Linked DNA regions of Homo sapiens. The protein of the gene in region 1 purifies or fractionates together with the protein of each later gene. This does not show direct contact. Each region holds a gene or a part of one and is shown on either strand. Other genes may lie near its edges. The genes, in order: NCAM1, FPR2, NCAN, SRPRB, OSBPL11, SLC15A1 and OAS1.

Region 1 (3,500 bases):
ATTTTCCTTAAAGAAGGCCCTCAAAATTATATACCCTTCAGGCCCAACAAGACCTAGATCCACCCTTGTGCTGATGGTTTTCAACCTTATAATCAGGCCATTTTTTTCTCTGAAGTATTCACAACCAACATGGAATTGCAGGCATATTTAGTGACCAATTTTTTAAGCCTAGTTCTAATCTCTGAAGGAGTCCTGTGTATCATAATACCCTTTTTAAAATCCTTCTAAAAAGAGGGCACTATGTCTAAATAATTATTTTTTCCAGATCCATATATATCCTTCTTGCTCACTAATGAACACTGCCTACATGCACTGAAGTCCTAAGATCTCTAAAATATTTATAACTCTAACAAGTAGGCATTACTAATTTTCCGATCTCACGGAAGAGGAAACTGAAACTTGAAGGAGTTAAATCATTTGTCTGAGATCAGACAGCTAGTAAGGGATATGTCTGGGGTTTCAACCCAGGGTTATCTACCTCTCTTAATCTCTAGTCTCTACTACTCCCAAGGTTCCCTGACAGCAGAAATTATGTCATCTCACTCCTTTTAATTCCCCACAGAGCAGATGATAAAAAGCTGGCACTCAATAAACATATTTGATCAACTATTTAAGAGAATACCTAATGTAACACAATCTCAAACAGTGTGACATTACTATGAATATTCTTAAATGATGAGGTAATCAGATACCAAAGGAGGTGATTAATGTACAACAAAAGGCATTTTACACCTTATCTCAGGAATGACGCCAAATAGAAAACGGAAGATCAGCTGTTACCCATGTTTGCAGCTACAAATCAAAAAGTCCTCAGAGTACGAAGTGGAATATAGGTTACATAGAAGCCTTTTAAATCATATCAGCCATGCAATCTTTGAATTCAAGAAAGTGTTACGTATATATGGAAGAAAATAGAATGCATAATGGGTTTATTACAATCTGTTTTTCAAAAGCACACATACACAAGATACACCAAATAGCTTATCCTTTTAGTGCAGTCCTCTTGGAGTCTCCAATTGCTTAGAAGCTAAATTAATACTGCAGGAAAGGAAAAGTGTGTCTACCCAACTGAAAATCCGTTAACTCAGTGGCTGCATGTAGACATGGCCTGAGCATGTTTTAAATGTAACGTATTGAAACTGCCTGAAAGGCCGCCATTTGGCACCCAGGCCAACATCAAAAAGCAATGCTCCTAATGAGCATCTGCAGCTGAGAGACAGTATTTCAACAACATGAAATGAAAAGGCATAATGGCACCACTGCCAACGCCAAATAATTTACATCCCTTTACATCAGCAAATGGTTTTAAGGTTTGGCCCCAAGAGTTAATAACAAAAGAGGCTAGAGGTAACAGGACTATGACCTTCAGATTGACTTCTGTATTCTATTACCCTACAGTAAGTAGTAAGCATATCTACCTGTATTGTTAAAAATAGTTTCACTACAATGTTTTCGAATAGTGAAAACTCTGGAGCTCATAGAAACCTAATCATTAGGATTCAGAGGTCCTTGGACATTTCCTCCTTCCTAAAAGACCATCTCTTACAGCATTGCTCAGAGTCACTGAGTATATTATGAAAAGTAAAAAATTTTCTTCTTCGAATTTTACTTAGAATTCTTTCTTTTTAACCAAAGGAATTTTCACCTTAGTGACTTTTATTAAAAGCTCAAATGACTTCATTTTATACAGCCACGTGATTAATGTTTTCAATTTTGTGTAATTTGTAACCCAGTTTTAAGATCAGTAAAATGCTCCCTGTAATGTGCTGCCATTTCTTTTAAAGTTCCAGACATTCCTTAGTCTATATGTTATAACTGCTAAACTGAAAAATGATCAATTATGGAATTTACATTAAAATATTTATCTTGACACCAGAAAACATGTGTGTGCTCAAAAAAGCAATGCTGAACTGGTGCAGGAGAGCCTTTATAAGATGTCTTTGTCTCCTCCTAGTCTATGATTCTTCCCGCAGACTGACGGGGGCAGGTGCGATCCCTTCTCTCCCTGGCCTGCCAATTGGTTCTGCTCTCCATCACAAGCTCAAGATCCTAAAAGTGCAACCCGTTCTTTAGCAACAGGTACTCAATCACTTATTTTACACTAAGTCAGAAAGGACTGTCTGTAAAATGTCTTTGGAAGCCTGCCAGTAGTATTGAAGCCACTTTCAGTCTGGAGAGCAGCCACAGTTCTTTAATACTAAAGACAAAATTATGAGAAATTTATCAAACTCATACTTAACAGAGGCTTCATCACCTTGAAAAATTAAGTGGTTGCATCAGAAATTCCAGAGTCCATTATTTAAGCAGTGTAAATTTTACAAAATGCTCTCTATAATTTGAGAAACTGGGTTCTGTAGTGAACAAAAACATGTCTAAAGATTAGCTTTTGAGTGACAAAATGGTGCTGTTTACTTTGAAAGGCAATTAAGACATTGTTCCTTGTGACAGAAAAATACAGATATAGGTTACTTCCATTAAATTACATATTACCTATCTGAGGAATTCAATTAATGATAAATGGATTCCAAACAGAAGCACTGTTCAAAACTTGGAATTTGGGGGTGCTACAGACTAATTTCTCCTTCTTATTGCTGCCTTCAGTAAACACCCACATCCCTTACAAATAGCACACCCACATCATTTTTTTTTCAGTTTTGATGTGGGATTTTTTTTTCTTTGCAATTACTATCTTAATTCTTGAACTATCAAACTCAAGAAACCAGTCACCAGTTAAATCAACATATTCTTAGTTTAATCAATTATCATTGTAAGACTTAGAGGAAACTCCTTTACTAAACAAGAATATGTCCTGCTATTTTCTGGTATTCCATTTTTAAAAAAAAAATCCTAGATAAAGGTATCTGGAAGGAAGTTATCAGGTTCAACAATTTAGGGAAAGAAAGAGGGCGTTCATAAAGCATTAACTTAAGAAAACAGTTAAAGACTAATGGAAGCTTAGCTAGGTTAGCAGATCTTTAAGACCTTTATAGAGGGAATAGTAACTCAAAAACTTACATAAATCATAGCCCACACGTCTACAATGTCTGGATTATATTCCCTGTTTTTAATAACTCTGTTGGATTTAAAACAAATTATCAGTTATTAATATTTCTAAATATGCTAGTATTTATTGAAAGAAAATAATCTTTCTAGGGTTTGGTTAGAGTTGTGAAAGGTTTTCCACATTCTTATATAGCCTTTATTACATTCAGTGAAATTCTGTTTAAAAACACACATTCTCAGTCTTCAAATGAAAATCAACAAAAATATATGGCTCACTATAACTGTGCTCACAGTCAACTTTGTGGAAGCGCACCTTAATTTGCTTAGTGAGAGATATTATATATACTACTTGATTTCAATGTTAGCTTTTGTAAAGTAGCTCTTTGTTCTTAACCGATGGTATCTTGTTAGAAACCCAGTCCTATCCATTCCTTGACTCTTGCAAGTTTAACTGGCAGAAGACTGCAAAATTATCAAGTAAACATGTGACTTAACCA
Region 2 (3,426 bases), on another chromosome or scaffold:
TTCAAGCAGAGAAGAATGGGGAACCGTTGCTGGGTGGGCAACCAGCAATATCTGTCAAGCGTAAGGGTTTAGAAGTCAGACCATGCCAAACTGAAGTCCTGAATCTATTATCTACTACCTAAGTGACCTTCAACACATTTCACAATTGCCCTGAGCTTTCATTTATTCTAATGAAAACTAGAAGTAATGAATATTACATAGCTATTACATAGGCCAAACCGGATCCCATATGTAGTAATTAACACAATGCATAGTCTCTAATAAGAACTTCACAAGTATTAATACAACTTATTATTCTTATAGTCTTTATCCCACAGACACCAAAGCTATACAAATCGGCACTGATTATTTGCATTCCAAACAGAGAAGAGCTCCACATCAAGCAGGGACAGGGAAAAGCAGAGGGTAGAAAGCAGAGATGGAACTCTCTTTGCTGACTTCCTCTAGTGCAGAATCCTCAGGATATAACATACTACTACATGTTACCAGTGACTCCTCAAAATTCTCTTCAACAATAACCTCAAGCCAAACCCTCAAACTTTATCTTGAGTACTAGCCAAGCAATAGGTCAAGGGTTCTCACAGTTTGAGGGACAGGAGTTGGGAGACTGGAAGAACCTGGGGCTGAAAGAGATTGCAGAGCTTGCCAGCATGTTTGCATTGAATGGTGGGAGACACAGATGTGAGCCTTCTGATTCTGAGTCATGTGCCTTCCTCACAATGCTGAGGCTGCCTATGCTCAATTTTCCATTGTCCATACAACATAAGTTCAGTATGAGCCTTGTAATCCTCTTGGTGAAGTGATCAGCCCGATAAGCGAAATGCATATTGATAATGATGGGAATATGGAGGACTATCCCTTCCCAAAGGAGCATCCAAGAGAATGCCAATTCTATAGCACCGTTGTCAACAAGGCTTGGTAGATAGAGTGGGTCTCCTGGTAGGAGTGGGAGCTTTAGTGGAAGTTGATGTGAGCTATAAATACAGATGCTGTAAGATGGTTCCACAGCTGAGAAATGGCCATTGTTGGAATGTTTCAGGTGCTGCTGGCAAGATGGAAACCAACTTCTCCACTCCTCTGAATGAATATGAAGAAGTGTCCTATGAGTCTGCTGGCTACACTGTTCTGCGGATCCTCCCATTGGTGGTGCTTGGGGTCACCTTTGTCCTCGGGGTCCTGGGCAATGGGCTTGTGATCTGGGTGGCTGGATTCCGGATGACACGCACAGTCACCACCATCTGTTACCTGAACCTGGCCCTGGCTGACTTTTCTTTCACGGCCACATTACCATTCCTCATTGTCTCCATGGCCATGGGAGAAAAATGGCCTTTTGGCTGGTTCCTGTGTAAGTTAATTCACATCGTGGTGGACATCAACCTCTTTGGAAGTGTCTTCTTGATTGGTTTCATTGCACTGGACCGCTGCATTTGTGTCCTGCATCCAGTCTGGGCCCAGAACCACCGCACTGTGAGTCTGGCCATGAAGGTGATCGTCGGACCTTGGATTCTTGCTCTAGTCCTTACCTTGCCAGTTTTCCTCTTTTTGACTACAGTAACTATTCCAAATGGGGACACATACTGTACTTTCAACTTTGCATCCTGGGGTGGCACCCCTGAGGAGAGGCTGAAGGTGGCCATTACCATGCTGACAGCCAGAGGGATTATCCGGTTTGTCATTGGCTTTAGCTTGCCGATGTCCATTGTTGCCATCTGCTATGGGCTCATTGCAGCCAAGATCCACAAAAAGGGCATGATTAAATCCAGCCGTCCCTTACGGGTCCTCACTGCTGTGGTGGCTTCTTTCTTCATCTGTTGGTTTCCCTTTCAACTGGTTGCCCTTCTGGGCACCGTCTGGCTCAAAGAGATGTTGTTCTATGGCAAGTACAAAATCATTGACATCCTGGTTAACCCAACGAGCTCCCTGGCCTTCTTCAACAGCTGCCTCAACCCCATGCTTTACGTCTTTGTGGGCCAAGACTTCCGAGAGAGACTGATCCACTCCCTGCCCACCAGTCTGGAGAGGGCCCTGTCTGAGGACTCAGCCCCAACTAATGACACGGCTGCCAATTCTGCTTCACCTCCTGCAGAGACTGAGTTACAGGCAATGTGAGGATGGGGTCAGGGATATTTTGAGTTCTGTTCATCCTACCCTAATGCCAGTTCCAGCTTCATCTACCCTTGAGTCATATTGAGGCATTCAAGGATGCACAGCTCAAGTATTTATTCAGGAAAAATGCTTTTGTGTCCCTGATTTGGGGCTAAGAAATAGACAGTCAGGCTACTAAAATATTAGTGTTATTTTTTGTTTTTTGACTTCTGCCTATACCCTGGGGTAAGTGGAGTTGGGAAATACAAGAAGAGAAAGACCAGTGGGGATTTGTAAGACTTAGATGAGATAGCGCATAATAAGGGGAAGACTTTAAAGTATAAAGTAAAATGTTTGCTGTAGGTTTTTTATAGCTATTAAAAAAAATCAGATTATGGAAGTTTTCTTCTATTTTTAGTTTGCTAAGAGTTTTCTGTTTCTTTTTCTTACATCATGAGTGGACTTTGCATTTTATCAAATGCATTTTCTACATGTATTAAGATGGTCATATTATTCTTCTTCTTTTATGTAAATCATTATAAATAATGTTCATTAAGTTCTGAATGTTAAACTACTCTTGAATTCCTGGAATAAACCACACTTAGTCCTGATGTACTTTAAATATTTATATCTCACAGGAGTTGGTTAGAATTTCTGTGTTTATGTTTATATACTGTTATTTCACTTTTTCTACTATCCTTGCTAAGTTTTCATAGAAAATAAGGAACAAAGAGAAACTTGTAATGGTCTCTGAAAAGGAATTGAGAAGTAATTCCTCTGATTCTGTTTTCTGGTGTTATATCTTTATTAAATATTCAGAAAAATTCACCAGTGAAGCCAACTTGGTCTTGTGTTTTCTTTCTGGGAAGATTTTTAATAACAAGTTTGTTTTCTTTAACAGTGATTAGACTCTTCTGTTTTTTGGTTTTTTGTTTTTTCCTATCTGTCAGTTTTGGTAAACTGAATTTCAAGGAGTTTGGCCATTTCATTCAAACTGTCAAACTCATCGGCATAAAATAGTATAATAACTGTTTAAAAGTTATAAAACAGCATGAAACTTGGCTGGGTGCGGTGGCTCATGCCTGTAATCCAAGCACTTTGGGAGGCCAAGAAGGGTGGATCACCTGAGGTCAGGAGTTTGAGACCAGCCTGGCCAACATGGTAAAACCCCATCTCTACTTAAAATACAAAAATTAGCTGGGCATGGTGGTGCACACCTGTAATCCCAGCTACTTAGGAGGCTGAGGCAGGAGAATTGCTTGAACCCGGGAGGTGGAGGTTGCAGTGAGCCAAGACTGTGCCATTGCACTCCAGCCTAGGGGACAAGAGTGAGACTTTGTC
Region 3 (3,500 bases), on another chromosome or scaffold:
TTACAAGTTGGTAGTTGGGAGCACTGGTCCAGGGTCTGGCTTTGACCTCTACCCTGCTGTGCAGCCTGAGGCAAACCTCTAGCCCTCTCTGGTCCCTGAGGCATCGTGTTAGCAGGCAGGAGGCAGGGGTGGACTAGGTGGGCTTTGCCGCTGCGTTGCCGCCTCAGAGTTCAGCACCACGGACAGGTCCCAGGCCGGCCTCCCAGCAGGGGACTCTGGGAGCTGGGAAGGAGAACTGGGGAAAGGGACAGCTGTCACATACAGCCTCCCCTTCTGGACTCCGTTCACACCCCTTCCTCAGGGATAATTTCTTATGGGGGCGGGGAGCAAGGATTGGGTTTGCAGATGATGTTCTAATTTTCCATCTGCGCCCACCTCCTGAGCCCTGGTGACCGGGGTTCGCAGGAGTGGGAGGTTTTGGGGAGGGACCACCTCCCCAGGATTCCTAGTCTCTGGAACAATGTGAAGTCAGGAAATGCACTGCTGTGTCCCAACGACTGGCATGGGCTTTGCTCACAGTAGGCGCTTAATAATTGTCCACTTTATCCCTATGGGTCCTAGCCCCTATAGGGAAATGGACCCACAACTGAAGTTTCTCTGTGGGCCTAAGAAGTATCTTTGTTGAGCTGTGTGAAGTCAGGAGGAGGATGGGTGGGCAGGGGTGAGCCCCTTCCTCCAGCTGGGAGTTGGCGGCTCCTCCAAAATCCCAGAAACCAAGAATAGAATCTTGGTGACAACCAAATCCTGGAATTGAAGCTGCGAATCGTGTCAGCCAGCAAACCCAGATTAAAGGATGGCTTAGAGGCCAGCCTGCTGCCTGGACTGAGGATGCTGGGAGGACTGGGACAGACTGCTGCCCTCTAGGAGCCGCCAGTCTGATGGAGGAGGCTGACTTGAAAAATGGTATTTCAGTCTTGGCTGTGTTAAGGTCGGTAATAATAATAGCAGCAGCTAAAATGTACCCCTTACTGCATGAGACAGTTCTAAGCATTTTATATGTATTGACTCATCCATTCCTTTCAACTACCTGATGTTATCCCCATCTGACCCACAAAGAAAGTAAGGCACAGAGAAGGTAAGCAACTTGCCCAAGATCACACAAAAGGAACAGTGAGCCAATTCCAGATTTGATTCACTACCAGCACCCAGGCTTCTGACCACAGACTTCATTGCTTGGATTGTTTTTTGTTGTTGTGTTGTGTTTTGTTTTGTTTTCAGTCTCGCGCTGTCACCCAGGCTGGAGTGTGGTGGTGGAATCATAGCTCACTGCAGCCTTGAACTCCTGGGCTCAAGCAATCCTCCCACCTCAGCCTCCTGCATAGCTGGGACCACAGGTGTGCGCCACCAAGCCCAGATAATTTTTTTTTTTTTTGAGACAGAGTCTCACCCTGTCGCCCAGGCTGGAGTGCAGTGGCGTGATCTCGGCTCACTGCAACCTCCACCTCCCGGGTTCAAGTAATTCTCCTGCCTCAGCCTCCTGAGTAGCTGGGATTACAGGCGCCTGCCACCACGCCCAGCTAATTTTTGTATTTTTAGTAGAGACGGGGTTTCACCATGTTGGTAAGGCTGGTCTCGAACCCCTGACCTCGTGATCCACCCTCCTCGGCCTCCCAAAGTGCTAGGATTACAGGCGTGAGCCACCACGCCTGGCTGCTAATTTTTTAAATAGAGGTAAGATCTCACTATGTTGCCCAGGCTGGTCTCAAGCTTCTGGCCTCAAGCAGTCCTCCCACCTCAGCCTCCCAAAGTGCTGGAACTATAGGCGTGAGCCACCGCGTCCAGCCACTGCTATTCTGAGGTCAAGTGGCCCTGGGTTCGAATTCTGGCTCAGCCCTTTGCTGGCTCCTTCTGTGACCTAGAATAACACACTGGTCTCTCTGAGCCCTGGTTTCCTGATCTGTAGAGTGGGGGAGTTTGGTCCTGCAATGCTGAATATCTGGGAGGGTTGGGCTGTGGCTCACCCCTCCCTCCCTCTCCATTTTGTTCCAGATCCAGGATGGGGGCCCCGTTTGTCTGGGCCTTGGGCCTTTTGATGCTGCAGATGCTGCTCTTTGTGGCTGGGGAACAGGGTGAGTTGGTTTGTGGGGAGGGAGAGATTGGGGTCTAGGGGATGGACAAGATGGGGCAGCTTTTGAATTCCAGAGCCTTCTCCTGCTGGTCTCCTGGCATGGGCTAGAGAATAAAATGAGAATAGATTTTAAAAGGTCTTTGAACAGTCAAAAGCGAACAGGATACCTAAGAGGTTATTTTTAGTCATTGTCAGCAGAAGCTGGAGATTCCCGCCTCTCATCGTTTTGCTCAGATGAACTGGAGAGAAAGAAAGAAAGAAATGAGAATAGTGCAGAGATTGATTAGTGATGTCTGCCAAGGGTGGAGCGATGGAAATAAAGGTCTGTGTCCCTCTACTGGTGGTCAAGAGCCCAGGTTTTAGAAATCCCTCACAGATTTGGTCTGTGACCTTAGGCAAGTATAATTATCTCTCTGAACTTCAGTTTCCTCAACTCCCCCCAAAGAGAATGAGACATTGCTACTCTGCAGATGGTTATGAAAATCAAATGAGCTGATTGCTATAAAGTGCCTGTTACAAAGATGGTACTCTGCAAACACCATTTCCTTTTCATTAGCTGTCTTTTGCTTTACCTTTCGGAAAAACTGGGGCTCAGGGAAGGAAAATGCCTCTCCCAGGGCCATACAGTGAATCAGTGGCACTGGAGTGAAATCCCTGTCCTTATAAAAATAAAGTGAGGGGCTAGGCACAGTGGTTTATGCCTATAATTCTAGCACTTTGGGAGGCTGAGGCAGGCAGATCACTTGAGGTCAGGGGTTCCAGGCTAGCCTGCCTAACATGGTGAAACTCCGTCTCTACAGAAAATACAAAAATTAGCCAGGTGTGGTGGCACATGCCTGTAATCCCATCTTCTCGGGAGGCTGAGGCATGAGAATCGCTTGAACCTGGGAGGCGAAGGTTGCAGTGAGCCGAGATCATGCCACTCCACTCCAGCCTGGGTGACAGAGTCAGACTCAAAAAAATAATAATAAGGCTGGGTGTAGTGGCTCACCCCTATAATCCCAGAACTGTGGGAGGCCAAGGTAGGTGGATCAGTTGAGGTCAGGAATTGGAGACCAGCCTGGCCAACATGGTGAAACCCATCTCTACTAAAAATGCAAAAATTAGCCAGGCGTGGTGGCACACACCTGTAATCCCAGCTACTGGGGAGGCTGAGGCAGGAGAATTGCTTGAACTTAGGAGGCAGAGGTTGCAGTGAGCTGAGATCATGCCACTGCACTCCAGCCTGGGAGATGGAGCGAGACTCCATCTCAAAAGTATAAATAAATAAAAGAATAATAATAATAAGGGGCTGGGCACAGTGGCTCATACCTATAATCCCAGCACTTTCGGGAGGCTGAGGTGGGAGGATTGCTTGAGTCTAGGAGCTTGAGGCTGCAGTGAATCATGATCATGTCACTGCATTCTACCCTGGGCGATAGAGTGAGACTCA
Region 4 (4,146 bases), on another chromosome or scaffold:
GAGTCAGATTCCATAATTGTTTTAAGATAATTATCCTTGGCTACAAGGATCAAATGGCAAGGATGGCATCAGTACTAGGTTGGACAGGGAGTTGCTGGGTAGCCGTCCTAACAGATGTATTTTTTTGTGTGTAAGGTTGCGATGGCCTTTGTGCAAGTCTGTGGTTTTTGCAGTCTTTTGTGACAGTTTTTGTCATCAGGCATGGGTGCCTGAGAACCCTCCCTCCATGGCCTTTCACCAGCTCCATTTTTCTGATTAAAAAAAAAAATACAAGTGACTCCATTTTGATGCTGACAACTTTTTCAATGGCAATGTGGAACTGTAATAAACTTTTTTCAATCTTTCAGTGACACTGACATCTTCATGTCTCTACTCAGCCATACAATTAAATTAAATAATGTGTACATTTTAAAACAATGACAGCTGTTTAATGACAGAGACTGTGAACTGGGACCCTCTAGGCTGGCCACTTTTGGTGTTTTATTTGGGCCACAAGTTTTTGAATGCTTTCAATTACCTACAGAAAATTTCAAAAGTGGAAAATTTCCTATAAAAATCTGCCTTTATTGCTTCTCTTGAAAACTGGAAGAACCGGCCACCCAGGTCCCATAACACCTACCTGGCTGAATAGGGTCGGCCCTACTTTCAGCAGAAATACCTCCTGCAGTTTTCAACAGCCCCAGCTCTCCTGGGCGTTGATTTTCCTAGTTGCTTCCTTTAATGCAGACATTTGAGTTTGCAGCCCTAGATTGACAGTGTAGGGGCACTGAATTACTTAGGGTTCCCACATACATCGTTTCTTACACTCATTTTCTTCTGCACAGCACCTTTTTTTCCTTTAACCACTCGCAGATGCTAACTCATTCTTCAGGACTCAATTCCAATGTCCAGAAGCTTTTCTCTGAACTCATGATGGACTCCGCGTCCCATTATGTATTCCCACATCGCTCCGTACATCCATCTGTCACATCCCTTGTCACATTAAATTCAGATTAAATGTTTGTAGGATGCTTGAGTTCTTCACAAGTCTCACGTCACTTAGCGACGGTCGGGAACTCCTCAGTGGTAGTTTCGGGAGCCATTCATTCATTTTATTCATTTCATCATTCTTTCAACAGTCATAACGTAGGTGACGACGACTGACTCATCTCTTAAAAGATGTGTGTGTCCCTCGACAAATAACCTGTCTGCCCCTATCGTTCTGTAGGAGGACGGAGTCCCAGAGAACTACAACTCCCATCAAGCACTTGGGGGATCGCCGCGGCTGAGGGAGAGACTATGGCTTAGGAACCACCATTCGCGTGAGGCTCTGCTCCCCGCGCCTGCGCAGAGTGCAGGGCCACGTCGCTTTTGCTGTACCGGGGACCACGCGTCTCATCCATGGCTTCCGCGGACTCGCGCCGGGTGGCAGATGGCGGCGGTGCCGGGGGCACCTTCCAGCCCTACCTAGACACCTTGCGGCAGGAGCTGCAGCAGACGGACCCAACGCTGTTGTCAGTAGTGGTGGCGGTTCTTGCGGTGCTGCTGACGCTAGGTAAAAGGCGGCCGGTGGTCATGGCGGGTTTGGGGCGGGCAGAGGTCCGGGCTTTGGCTGCACCGCTGCAGGCCGGGGACGCGGGGCTGAGAGGGCGCCTTGAGGGCATCAGGAGGGTGAGACCCACCCAGTCTACACCCCACCCTCTCTCCTGAAGCAGCGGCAGCAGCTGGGCGTTAAGGGGGATGCCGGGCAACCCCCGGAGTTAACGTCCTGGTCCTTGGGGCGCAGATTGCTCTTCGTCATCTGCCCTGTTACGCTTGAGCGCGCTGTTCCTCGCCTTCCGCTGTTCTCACTGCAAAGACTCAGGGTCTTGACACCAACTTTCAGCCTCCCGTGTTTGCGTGCGGGCGCTGGGATACCAAGGTAGTGAGATAGCACCTGAGTCCCAGTCAGAGTAAGGACTGCAAAGAAAAGTTGACAGTTGACAGTGCCTGGCTCTCAGTGGATCCCTAACAACAGCAATAGTAACCATTATGATAAAAGTCAGTTCCAGGTGAATGAGGTGTTTCGTCACAGACTTCTGTGAATTTCCCCACCCCAGCCATGCACATATACTGATTCCCAAGGCGTAATTTTTGTTGTTTTTCTCTGTCTATTCCACAGTCTTCTGGAAGTTAATCCGGAGCAGAAGGAGCAGTCAGAGAGCTGTTCTTCTTGTTGGCCTTTGTGATTCCGGGAAAACGTTGCTCTTTGTCAGGGTAAATGATTTCATTGACACCCCTGTTAAGCTTAATAGAAAATTTTATAGATCCCAGTATTCCTGTCATCTCACGGTTTATTTTGTAAAAGAAGCTGATGCTGTTAAATTTGGAAGTTAATTCTTGACTTACTTGGGAGAACAAAAAGACTCGTAGAAACCCATAATTGAGAAATATTGGTCATTTCTCCTTTTTTTTTTCTGTTTGCCCTTGCCAGATGCTGATATTTAGTCTTTATCACATTCAAGGATTTTATTTAATTAGTTTCATTCCAGAATAGCAGAAGGCATAGAAGCTAGTGTCCTACAGTTTATAATTCCTTCGTTAACAAATTCTTAGGACAGTTTATCGAAGACACTTTTTCACAGGGTGATCCTTCTTTGACATAGTGGGCTAGTTAGGCTTCTTTTTACTAATATTTATTTTTAATACATTTAGTATTTTTAACAGTGTATTTTAATGTGGTGAATAGGAGAGGTTTTCTGCTTTTTAACTCTTCTTTTTGAGAGTATAAATTATTTCCCTTCCATTAAAGAAATACCTCCATTTTTTTTTTTTTTTTTTTTTTGAGGGAGTGTCTCACTCCAATGCCCAGGCTGGAGTGCAGTGGCGAGATCTCTGCTCATTGCAGCCTTGACCTCTGGGACTCAGATGATTCTCCCACCTCAGCCTCCGAGTAGCTGGGACTACAGGCGTGCAACACTACGCCCGGCTGATTTTTTATATTTTTTGTAGAGATGAGATTTTGCCATGTTGCCCAGGCTTCAAATCATTTTTGTTGGTTAAAAATCTTTACAGAAGCTTGGCAAATTTGGCCACTAACTGTCTTTTGAGAATAATGTTGTTTTTATTCCACTGAGGAGTAAAATATGCAATTAATTAGATTTTTTTCTACAGGTAAAAAAAATCAATATCGTCTTTTTCACCTGTCGGAAGCAGCATTCATTTACTTAACCTTACACCTGGGAGACTTAGAATAATATAACTCAATTTAGGTGTGCTATTAAAATGTTGAATATCACCCATCTTGTTTTTTTTACAGTTGTTAACAGGCCTTTATAGAGACACTCAGACGTCCATTACTGACAGCTGTGCTGTATACAGAGTCAACAATAACAGGGTAAGATGTTTGTGGAGTTTTGGAGTCTGACAGTCTTACTTTACTGTGGTGTGTCAGTTAAGGACATTTTTAGGATGAGTTCATCTGAGGATGTAAGTACCATTTGTAGCTTATTTTTATGGAGAAACATATTCTTTGTGACAAATTCTCTTGACAATCTGTACAGTAGATTTAATCATGCCCTCCTCTGCATTGTTGTACCTTAATGTACAGTAATGTTATATCACATTTTATTCTTATTTTTTGTTTCTGTGTCTTCTTTCCAACTTTACAATGAGTTCTTAAGAGTGGGCATTAAACCTTTTAAGTTTTGAATAGGTAATACATGCACATGGGACAAAAATTCAAAAGGTTAGAAAAGATATTTGGTGAAAAGTAATTTTTCCTTTCCTTTCCCCACTACCTAGTTTTCTCCTCAGAAGCAGTGACTTACTTTTTTTTGTATGTAGTCTTCCGGATGTTCTGTGCATATACAAACATGTCTGTATATCCTTTATTGTTGTTTTTTTTTAAATGCTGTTCTGCCCATTATTTTTCTCATACGGCTGATACAACTTGGGCTTTTCTTATTGTCCTACATTTGTATACATAGTACCATCTGGTTGGTTTATGAGCTGCATAGTACTCCACTCTGTTGCTATACCATAAAATTAAATTCTTACTTAATCTGGACCGTGTTAATAGACATTTAGTTTTGTTATTATAACCTTTGCTTTTACAAACAGTGCTGCAATGGATATCTTACAGAGTATATATGAGTGTATTTCAAATATAAGGAATCATGGGGCCTG
Region 5 (3,500 bases), on another chromosome or scaffold:
AGGCAGGAGAACCGCTTGAACCCAGGAGGCAGAGGTTACAGTAAGCTGAGGTTGCGCCACTGCACTCTAGCCTGGGCGACAGAGCTAGATTCTGTCTCAAAAAAAATAAACAAATAAATAAAAATAAAGAGCCTGGTGACTAAACTGCAGTCACAGCTACCTCTTATCTAACAATAACACTTAATTAACAAATATTTACTGGGCCCCTGTTATATTCCAGACACTGTGCTAGGTCTTGGGACAGGAACAAATAAGATAACCATGGTCCTAGCCTTCATGTTGTGAATAAGTAATATGCATTTTCCTACTGTTCATTTTGTTTCTTTTTAAATAATATTATGAAATTATATAAACACAAAATTTTAGAAAACTAAAGAAAATCTATCATTTTACTACCCTAACATAACAGAGCTCTCACTTTTATCTTTCTTCACATTGTCATAGTTTATATGGAATTTTGTTTTACTTCCTTTTTTCAGTTAATTTTTGTGTGTATGAAATGTGTTAAACACACAGAAGACTGAATGGTATACATATAAACATTCAAAGAAAAAAGATAAAATGAATACCCATGTATCTACCTCTGACATTAAGTTGTAGAACACTGCCTGAACTTGGAATCTCTGAGTTCCCCTCTAATTTATAGTCCTCTACTTTTTCCTCCATAAAACAATTTACTTGACTTGTGTGTTAATTATCCCTCTACTTTTTGCTATAGTTTTACTGCTTTTTTGTACTCCATAATGATGTTTAGGAAAAAATGAATAGCTAACATAAGCTTAGCATAAGGAAAGGACTGTGTTGCCATTTGTAGAAAGCAGCTCCCAGAAAAAGACAAGTTAAACATTTGAGTCTCTGGCTTTAGCTTCTTATAAGTTATTGAGAAAGTTTAGAAGAGCCCTTTCTTGTGAAATTATAAGGCAAAGTTGTGAGTCCTGTAAAATATACATCCCAGAGCATTTGGTGTGAGTCAGCTACAGGAGGAATGTGGGCTGGGGGAGTGAGCTGCTCAGTATTTTCAGTTTCAAAGCAAACTGTGACCTACCTCCAACTCTGAGGAATAGATTGAAGTCAGAAGGCTTCTTTCGGGGAAATGAGCATCTTCAGCCAATCCAGACAGCAGAACATGGAGAGGAGACTAAGAACTTCACCAGCAGATAGTCAACACAAGCCAAATACAGATACACTTGGGATCAGTTTCACTAGGCTATTTTATCCTGAGGTTTGAAAAGATGATACAATGGCAGCATGAAGCATGTGGATGACAGTCTTCAGTATGTCTGTCTCTTGAGTCACATCACTCTAATCTGGACCAGTATTTCCTTTAGCATTCTCTTTGGCTAATCCGTTTACTGTATCCGTTTCTTCTTTCTTGGTTGCCTCTCATTTTGTTGGAATATATCCTCCATTAATTTCTCAGAAAGATTTGTAAGAAGCGAATGTGAAAATGTGTGTCTGAAATGTCTGTGTTGCCCTCGTGTTTCATTGCTGGTTTAGATAGAATTTGTTACTTGTGGCCAGGTGCAGTGGCTCACGCCTGTAATCCCAGCACTTTGGGAGGCCAAAGCAGGCAGATCACTTGAGGCCAGGAGTTTGAGACCAGCCTGGCCAACATGGCAAAATCCCCTCTACTAAAAGTACAAAAATTAGCCAGGCATGGTGGCACATGCCTGTAATCCCAGCCATTCAGGAGGCTGAGGCACAGGAATCACTTGAACCTGGGAGGTGGAGGTTGCAGTGAGCTGAGATGACGCCACTGCACTCCAGCCTGGGTGACAGAGCGAGACTCCATCTCAAAAAAAAAAAGATAATATCTCCGTGCTGCAGGGTTCTAATGAAAAGACTGAAGTCATTCTGATTCCTGATCTTTTGTTTGTGACTTGTTTTGTATGTTCTTCTCTCCAAAATTGTTTAGAATCTTCTCTTTATCATGTCTTGGTATTGTGACATTGATGTAGGTTTCTTTTATCCATTGTATCTGGGCACTTGGTGGGCCTTTTCAGTGTGACAACTCATGTTTTTGAGTTCTCTGAAATTTTCTTGAATTATTTCTTTGATGATTGTATTAGGGTTCCTAGAAGGACAGAAATAAGAGGATAGATGTATATATAAAGGGGAGTTTATTAAGGAATATTGACTCATACAGTCACAAGGTAAGGTCTCATAATAGGCCATCTGCAAGCTGAGGAGCAGGGAATCCAGTCCGAGTCCCCAAACCTCAAAAGTAGGGAAGCCAGCAGTGCAGCTTTCAGTCTGTGGTTGAAGGTCCAAGAGTCCAAAAGCGAAGAACTTGGAGTCCGATGTTCAAGGGCAGGAAGCATCCAGCAGGGGAGAAAGATGTAGGCCAGAAGACTCAGCAAGTCTAGTCCTTCCATATTCCCCTGCTAGCTTTTATCCTAGCAGCTGATTAGATGGTGCCCACACAGATTGAGGGTAGGTCTGCCTCTCCCAATCCACTGACTCAAATGTTAATCCCCTTTGGCAACACCCTCAGACGCACCCAAGAACAGTACTTTGTATCCTTCAATCCAATCAAGTTGACACTCAATATTAACCATCACAATGATTTTTCTTTCTTCTATTTTGTTTGTTTGTTTGTTTGTTTTCTCTGAAATCCTTATTATATGGCCATTGAACTTCCTGGTCTGGTCTTTTATTGTTCTCTCATACTTTTCTTTTTCTCTCTTTGTCTGTCTTCTGTGTTATGGGAGATTTCCTCGCCTTTTATCTTTTAACTCTTCTTTTGACTTTTAATTATTGTCATGTTTTTAAATTTTCTGATTTTTTTAAAAAGCATTCTTGTATGTATATAATATCTTCTTAATTCTCTGAAGATATTATTTTTTATTTTTGTTTTTTCCCCTCCTTTGAGGTTTCTGTTTCCTCCAAATCTGTTTCTTTATTTTGTTCTTTATATTCCTAGTTAGAGGTTTTCTCAGAAATCAGATCTTCTGCTCACAATTAAGTTTAGGGAAACTAAAATCTGATTTTAAGCTTTAACACGTAGGTGGCGCCTATGTTTTTCATTGTCCCATAATCTGGATGGGCCATTTGTTGGGAGACTTGGTGTCAGTATCATTAGGTTTTTCTTCTAGGTTTAGTCAAATTTCCCAGAAGAAAAATTTTTTCATCTCATACTTGGTGACTCCAAAAGGAGTTAAAAAGGAGAAGAAGGCTGCATGAGAGAGGGTGTTAATAGCTAACGTTTAGTTTATATGGAGTTATTAAATGCCCTTGTTATGTATCACTTGGTATCCACTCTCTTAGAATTCCTTGCTATTCTCCAGTCTAGAGAATAGACCACCTTGTTTATCCAGAGGCTAAACCTCTAGACTTTGAGGTCCAAGAGGGTAGTTACTAACAGTGTGGAGTTGGGGGTTTGAGTTAGGCATCTAATTGCTTTCCATACAGATTTTACTCAGTTATTTTTATTTTATCATTTCTGTGAATCCCCAGATCCAGAGGTACCTAGTGCGATCAGCTCCTGAGCCTTTTTAGGA
Region 6 (3,500 bases), on another chromosome or scaffold:
CTCCATCCATGTTCCTATAAAGGACATGATCTTGTTGTTTTTTTATTGCTGCGTAGTATTCCGTGGTGTATATGTACCACATTTTCTTTAGTCTATCATTGACAGGTATCTAGGTTGCTTCTATGTCTTTGCTATTGTGAATAGTGCTTCAGTGAACATATGTGTGCATGTGTCTTTATGGTAGAATGATTTATATTTTTTTGGGTATATACCCCGTAATGGGACTGCTGGGTCAAATGGTAGTTCTTGGAGGAGTTGTCACAATGCTTTTCACAATAGTTAGACTAATTTACACTCCCACCAGCAGTGTATAAGCATTCCCTTTTCTCTGCAAGGTGTTTTGATTTAATGGAAAAAAAGGAAAAACGTTTATTTCCTCAAGAACATCTCAAATGTATAAACATCTGCCATGTCCTAATAGAGCTTATAATAAAATCTTGTCACTAGGGGCAGATTGTAGAAGTTCTAAATGCCTAGTTTGAGAACTTTTAACGAGCCTTCTTATGGAAGTACATTTTGTGAATTTTCTATTTGTTAATCTGATCTCTGAACCAAAATTCCCTCTGGACATGGACCTGTTGTTCCATATCCCCACATCATACCTGGAGGACTCTAAACCCTCTCTCCAATGAGAGACCCCTTTCCGCAGCCCGGTGAGGAGCTTTGAGCAGTTTCCAGTCTAGGAACCAGGAGAGGAACTAGACCTTCCTCCTTCTTAAGCCTCTGTGGAAGACCCTGTCCCTGTGCCCCGTGGCTGTGGCACTTCCCAACGGCTGAGCCTGTGCTTTAACTGTGTTCTCATAGCTGCCCTCATCCTAAACCCCAAAAACCAGAGGGGCCGAGAGAAGAGGTGTGGCCCCCCCCACCCCGGCTGACACAGCCTCCTTTGTATCACATCCATGAGGTGAACCCAGGGTCCAGTGTCCTCCGCAATAGACTTCCAGCTTCTGAAACCAAGGGACAAAGGTACAAAAGAGTGACTCCCTGGTTCTTGGTGTTGCAACCCCGGGATGATGAGTCAACCGTGCTCGCTCAGCTGAGAATACTGCTCTTTCTCTCACTGTCCTCAAGGAAGAATGTGGAAAGGTTCCTCAGGCCTGACCCTTGTTTTTATTTCCTTATCGGCTCACCTGGGACACCTACCCACTTTCTCATCCTGCAAAGCATAGAATCAAGACGCAACTGTGTCTGAGAGCTTCTGCCTCCACCATGGGAACACACCTGGCTGGGAAGTCTTAGCTCCAAAGTTCTACACCAGGCCCCCAGTCATCAGCAGCTCCACCATGGGGAATAGAGTAGCAGTCCCATTTTCTAGGGAGGATTCCTGGTAGCTCAACTAGCCCATTGAGTAAGCCCTGTTTGTTCTTCATGGAATGGTTCAGTAACTCAAAGGGCAGTAGAAAAAAATTATTAATCAAAAAAACCCAGCCTGGCACAGTGGCTCAGGCCTGTAATCCCAGCACTTTGGGAGGCCAAGGCAGGCGGGTCACCTGAGGTAAGGAGTTTGAGACCATCCTGGCCAACGTGGTGAAACCCCGTCTCTACTAAAAATACAAAAGTTAGCCAGGTGTGATGGTGCGCACCTGTGATCCCAGCTACTCTGGAGGCTGAGACAGGAGAATTGCTTGAACTCAGGAGGCAGAAGTTGCTGTGAGCCGAGATTGTGCCACTGCACTCCAGCCTGGTTGACAGAGCAGACTGCATCTCAAAAAACAAATGAACAAACAAAAAAACCCAAGGGAATCGAAAATGGAATAATCTTACTCAGGACATTTTGTAAGAGACGTGAAAGACCATGCAAACATTTAGCATTCCATCCAAACTGGGCAAACCTAAAGTAGGCAAACCCTCCTGCTCAGACAAACACTCCTAGTTGCTGCTTTCACTGGTCTCATAGTACCTCATTTTCCTCAACTCTAACTCGGAGTGGAAGAGTGTTGTTTACGGGCTTATGTTCCTGCCCCCTGAGGATATAATTTCTTCAGGCAGGATTATTTTTATCCTCACATGGTTAAGTAAATACCTGCATAGATATGCAATTCAGGTGCATCCTGGCCAGCCCAGCTGAACCACATTCATTTCTCACTCCTATTCATTTCTACTCTCTTTACTTCTTTGTTTTTGTCTTGTTGTTGCTTCAGACACAGTTTCTCTGTTGCCCAGGCTGGAGCACAGTGGAGCAATCTTAGCTCACTGCAACCTCCACCTCCTGGGCTCAAGTGATCCTCTGGCCTCAGCCTCCCGAGTAGCTGGGACTAGAGGTGCGCACCGCCATGCCCAGCTAATATTTTTGTATTTTTTTTGTGGAGACGGGGTTTTGCCATGTTGCGCAGACTGATTTCAAACTCCTGAGCTCAAATGATCCGCCTGTCTCAGCCTCTCCAAACGCTGAGATTACAGGCGTAAGCCGCAGTGCCCAGCTATCCCTACGTTAAGACGGCACCGGCAGACTAATTCTCAAGTTCTACCTGCTAATTTACCCAATGCTTCATCATCACGGACATGTACCCACATGGACAAGCCAGGGCCCAGACTGTACTAGACCTTCCCACAGCCTAATTTTAGGGCACAGTGGCAACATGTTCACATGGGCAGGGGTCAAAAAAAAGAACCCAGGGGATCTTTAGAGTCGTGGTTCTCAAAGCGTGGGCCTGGGAGCAGCAGCATCACACCACGTGGGAACGTGGTCAAATGTCAGTGCATGAGCTCTACCCTGCACCTGAGACTCTAGGCAAGAGGCCCAGCGAGCCCCACTGCTGGAACAAGCCCTCACTCAGATAAGCCTGATGCATGTTCAAGTTTGAAAAACGCTGACTTAGAGCAATATTAGCCCAAAAGAACCCAATGTTAGAAGTTCTCTTTTCTTGCTGCTGGCTAGGAGGAGGTGAGTTCCCCCGAAGGTCATATGCCAAAGGCTTCCTTCAGTGTGGGACCACCTCTATAGCTTGCAGCAGGGACACCAGCTGCCCTGGTACTTCAATATTGTTCTTCGGTTGACTCAAGAGTTGACAGGAGGAGGAGAGAATGTGGAGGGACGCACCAGGTGTGAGGGACCTTCACAGCCCATCCATCATTTTAAGCTCAGGCAGCTGACTTGGAAAAACCTATCAGAATCACAAACAAGGCCAGCCAGGAGGCTGAGATCTGGTGGGGCAGGAAGAGAATAAAGTATCCTACTTTAAGTGAGTGAGTATCTCCAATCAACCTGGAGGTCTTGGCAGATAGAGGCAGGTGCTTGCTGCATTGAACCTGAAGCCTTGTACCTAATTTTCAGAGTCCATTTAGCATAGTCTTGCTAAGCTTTGGATAAGGGAGTGAGGTGGGGTGGGAGGAAAGAGATCAAATAGTCAAAACCTTCAGCAAAAGCACCCCCAGCCCTATGATCCTACGAAGGCTTCGGAGGCTGCTTTTTCTTACTGACGCTTCTTCCCAGCATATAAGAAGTTTTCTGCTATTCAGAGACTGAATTCAACCTGACAGCCCTTGGGAAAAGAACATCT
Region 7 (3,500 bases), on another chromosome or scaffold:
CTTCTAGAATTCCAATTAAATGTATGTTAGACCCTGCTCTATCTTTCATATCTCTATACTCTCTTCTGTGTTTTTCATCCTTTTGTCTATTTTTCCATGCTTTATTCTGAATAGTTCCTTCTAATCTACCTTCCAATTAACTAATTTTCTCTTTAGCTATATCTAATTTGCTGTAATTAATTACAGTTGCCATTTTTATCCTAAAATTTCTATTTCATATTTTTGTATCTGCCATGGTACTTCTTATGGCTTTTAATTCCCTGCTAACTATTTAAAGTTCTTATTTTATCCTGTGAATATGATATTCCTAGTTATTTTATTTTTAATTTTTATTATTTGTTAATCTTATGTTTTATTTACACTTCTTTTCTGTGACATGAGCACACACAGATTCATGTGTATACATATATGGCTCTGATACCTCTCCTTTCCTGTCCTCATTCAAACCACTGATCACAGAGAGAGGACTATTTTTTTTTATTTTTAATTTTTCTATTTCAATAGGTTTTTGGGGGAACAGGTGGTGTTTGGTTACATGAATAAGTTCTTTAGTGGTGATTTTGGTGCACCCATCACCCAAACAGTGTACATTGTACCCAATGTGTAATCTTTTAACCCTTGCCACACCCCACCCTTTCCCCGCAGTCCGCAAAGTCCCATGTATCATTCTTATGCCTTTGCTTCCTCATAGCTTAGCTCCCACATATGAGTGAGAACATACAATGTTTGGTTTTCCATTCCTGAGTTATTTAATTAAAATAATAGTATCCAATTCCATCCAGGTTGCTGTGAATGCCATTATTTTGTTCCTTTTTATGGTTGAGTAGTATTCCATGGTGTGTTTGTGTGTGTATAACATTTTTCTTTATCCACTCATTGATTGATGGGCATTTGGGCTGGTTCCATATTTTTGCAATTGCAAATTGTGCTGTTATAAACATGTGTGTGCAAGTATCTTTTTTGTATAATGACTTCTTTTCCTCTGGGTAGATACCTAGTAGTGGGATTGCTGGATCAAATGGTAGATCTACTTTTAGTTCTATAAGGAATCTCCACACTGTTTTCCATAGTGGTTGTATGAGTTTACATTCCCACCAATGGTGTAAAAGTGTTCCCTTTTCACCACATCCACACCAACATCTATTATTGTTTGATTTTTTATTATGACCATTCTTGCAGGAGTGAGGTGGTATCACATTGTGGTTTTGATTTGCATTTCCCTGATAATTAGGGATGTTGAGCATTTTTCCATATGCTTGTTGGTATTTGTTTTTTTTTTTTTTTTTTCATTATTATACTTTAAGTTTTAGGGTACATGTGCACAATGTGCAGGTTAGTTACATATGTATACATGTGCCATGCTGGTGTGCTGCACCCATTAACCCGTCATTTAGCATTAGGTATATCTCCTAATGCTATCCCTCCCCAATTCCCCCCACCCCGCTTGTTGGTATTTGTATATCTTCATTTGAGAATTCTCTGTTCATGTCCTTAGCCCACTTTTTGATGAGATTTTTTTTTTCTTGCTGATTCGTTTGAGTTCTTTGTAGATTCTGGATATTAGTTGGATGTATAGATTGTGAAGATTTTCTCCCATTCTGTGGGTTGTCTGTTAACTCTGCTAATTATTTCTTTTGCTTTGCAGAAGCTTTTTAGTTTAATTAAGTCCCATCTATTTATCTTTGTTTTTGTTGCATTTGCTTTTGGGTTCTTGGTCATGAAGTCTTTGCCTAAGCCAATGTGTAGGAGGGTTTTTCCAATATTATCTTCTAGAATCTTTATGGTTTCAGGTCTTAGATTTAAGTATTTGATCGATTTTGAGTTGAATTTTGTATAAGGGGAGAGAGAAGGATTCAGTTTCATTCTTCTACATGCAACTTGCCAATTATCCTAGGACCATTTGTTGAATAGGGTGTCCTTTCCCCATTTTATGTTTTTGTTTGGTTTGTCAAAGATCAGTTGGCTGTAAGTGTTTGGCTTTATTTCTGGGTTATCTATTCTGTTCCATTTGTCTACGTGACTATTTTTATACCAGTACCATGTTGTTTTGGTGACTATGGCCTTACAGTATAGTTTGAAGTCTGATAATGTAATGCCTCCAGATTTGTTCTTTTTACTTAGTCTTGCTTTGGCTATGTGAGCTCTTTTTTGGTGCCATATGAATTTTAGGATTGTTTTTTCTAGTTCTGTGAAGAATGATGGTGGTATTTTGATGGGAATTGCATTGAATTTGTAGATTGTTTTTGGGAGTATGGTCATTTTCACAATATTGATTCTACCCATTCATGAGCATGGGATGTGTTTCCATTTGTTTGTGTCATCTATGATTTTCTTTCAGCAATGTTTTGTAGTTTTCCTTGTAGAGTTCCTAGTTATTTTAAAGTCTGTGTTCGGTCTTTCAGCATTTAAAGTTTGTAGGTTTATTACTATTTCTCTTCTTTCTGTTGGTCATAACTCTTAGTGTTTTGTTTCCTTGTGTGCCTGGTTACATATGTGCTGGTCATTGTATTTGAAAATTATGTGTGAAATAATTTGAGGTTTTGGATTATGTATATTCCTCCAGAAAGAATTTCATTTGCTTCTGTGCATTTCTTAGGAACATTACAAGTCCTTCTTCTCAGTTAATTTTCGTAGTATCTTTATCAGATAGGTGCTATTACAACCACTCACTTAGCAGATGAAAATCATGAGGCTCTGAGAGTCTAAGTCATCTACTTAGAATTGGACAATGGTGAAGCCAGGATTCAAACCCACATCAATAAGAATCCAGCGCTCTTAACAAGGGGCCAGTACACTTTTTTAAAAAATAAAAGGCTAGATAGTAAATATTTTAGACTTTGTGGACTGCACAGCCTCTGTTGCAACTACTCAACCCTGCCTTTGTAGCATGAATGCAGTCATAAACTATACATAAATGAATGAGCCTGGATTCGTTCCAAGGAAACTTTATAAAAACAGGTGGCAGGCTGGATTTGGCCCATGAGAAGTGTAGTTTACACAAAAGTTGAGCAAACCAATTTTTTTCTGATTGTTTTTCCTCTTCTCAGTGTAAGAAGAAGCTTGGGAAGCTGCCACCTCAGTATGCCCTGGAGCTCCTGACGGTCTATGCTTGGGAGCGAGGGAGCATGAAAACACATTTCAACACAGCCCAGGGATTTCGGACGGTCTTGGAATTAGTCATAAACTACCAGCAACTCTGCATCTACTGGACAAAGTATTATGACTTTAAAAACCCCATTATTGAAAAGTACCTGAGAAGGCAGCTCACGAAACCCAGGTATGCTATCCCCACATGGCTTAGCTCCCCTATGTAAATGAACACCTGGATACAGGTACAGTGCCTTGGAAATGGAGGAGGTGGGAGGGCTCCCCACTTAGTGAGAATCTCCTGTTGCCCATCATTGTACTGGGCATTTTACTACTGCCATCTGTTTTAAACACCTACCTCCAACCCTGTGAGGCAGGCACTATGCCAATTATTTTACAGGTGAGTAAACTGA

Evidence for each region.
Region 2: the proteins of NCAM1 (region 1) and FPR2 purify together in Homo sapiens (co-immunoprecipitation; one large-scale study listed by IntAct). This does not show direct contact.
Region 3: the proteins of NCAM1 (region 1) and NCAN purify together in Homo sapiens (affinity purification with western blotting, with the first as the bait; one study listed by BioGRID). This does not show direct contact.
Region 4: the proteins of NCAM1 (region 1) and SRPRB purify together in Homo sapiens (co-immunoprecipitation; one large-scale study listed by IntAct). This does not show direct contact.
Region 5: the proteins of NCAM1 (region 1) and OSBPL11 purify together in Homo sapiens (co-immunoprecipitation; one large-scale study listed by IntAct). This does not show direct contact.
Region 6: the proteins of NCAM1 (region 1) and SLC15A1 purify together in Homo sapiens (co-immunoprecipitation; one large-scale study listed by IntAct). This does not show direct contact.
Region 7: the proteins of NCAM1 (region 1) and OAS1 purify together in Homo sapiens (co-immunoprecipitation; one large-scale study listed by IntAct). This does not show direct contact.

Annotation. Positions count from the first base shown.
Region 1 is NC_000011.10:112,964,420-112,967,919, reverse strand, and holds part of NCAM1 (neural cell adhesion molecule 1 isoform 2 precursor), read right to left. Parts: intron 1-3,500.
Region 2 is NC_000019.10:51,767,606-51,771,031, forward strand, and holds the end of FPR2 (N-formyl peptide receptor 2), read left to right. Parts: intron 1-1,039; 5' UTR 1,040-1,053; coding exon 1,054-2,109; 3' UTR 2,110-2,926; downstream 2,927-3,426. UniProt on the Homo sapiens protein: Low affinity receptor for N-formyl-methionyl peptides, which are powerful neutrophil chemotactic factors. Binding of FMLP to the receptor causes activation of neutrophils.
Region 3 is NC_000019.10:19,214,958-19,218,457, forward strand, and holds part of NCAN (neurocan core protein precursor), read left to right. Parts: intron 1-1,989; 5' UTR 1,990-1,996; coding exon 1,997-2,069; intron 2,070-3,500. UniProt on the Homo sapiens protein: May modulate neuronal adhesion and neurite growth during development by binding to neural cell adhesion molecules (NG-CAM and N-CAM). Chondroitin sulfate proteoglycan; binds to hyaluronic acid.
Region 4 is NC_000003.12:133,804,469-133,808,614, forward strand, and holds the start of SRPRB (signal recognition particle receptor subunit beta), read left to right. Parts: upstream 1-1,346; 5' UTR 1,347-1,380; coding exon 1,381-1,534; intron 1,535-2,140; coding exon 2,141-2,235; intron 2,236-3,277; coding exon 3,278-3,355; intron 3,356-4,146. UniProt on the Homo sapiens protein: Component of the signal recognition particle (SRP) complex receptor (SR). Ensures, in conjunction with the SRP complex, the correct targeting of the nascent secretory proteins to the endoplasmic reticulum membrane system.
Region 5 is NC_000003.12:125,553,998-125,557,497, reverse strand, and holds part of OSBPL11 (oxysterol-binding protein-related protein 11), read left to right. Parts: intron 1-3,500. UniProt on the Homo sapiens protein: Plays a role in regulating ADIPOQ and FABP4 levels in differentiating adipocytes and is also involved in regulation of adipocyte triglyceride storage. Weakly binds 25-hydroxycholesterol. Interacts with OSBPL9 to function as lipid transfer proteins.
Region 6 is NC_000013.11:98,746,173-98,749,672, forward strand, and holds part of SLC15A1 (solute carrier family 15 member 1), read right to left. Parts: intron 1-3,500. UniProt on the Homo sapiens protein: Electrogenic proton-coupled amino-acid transporter that transports oligopeptides of 2 to 4 amino acids with a preference for dipeptides. Transports neutral and monovalently charged peptides with a proton to peptide stoichiometry of 1:1 or 2:1.
Region 7 is NC_000012.12:112,913,462-112,916,961, forward strand, and holds part of OAS1 (2'-5'-oligoadenylate synthase 1), read left to right. Parts: intron 1-3,047; coding exon 3,048-3,277; intron 3,278-3,500.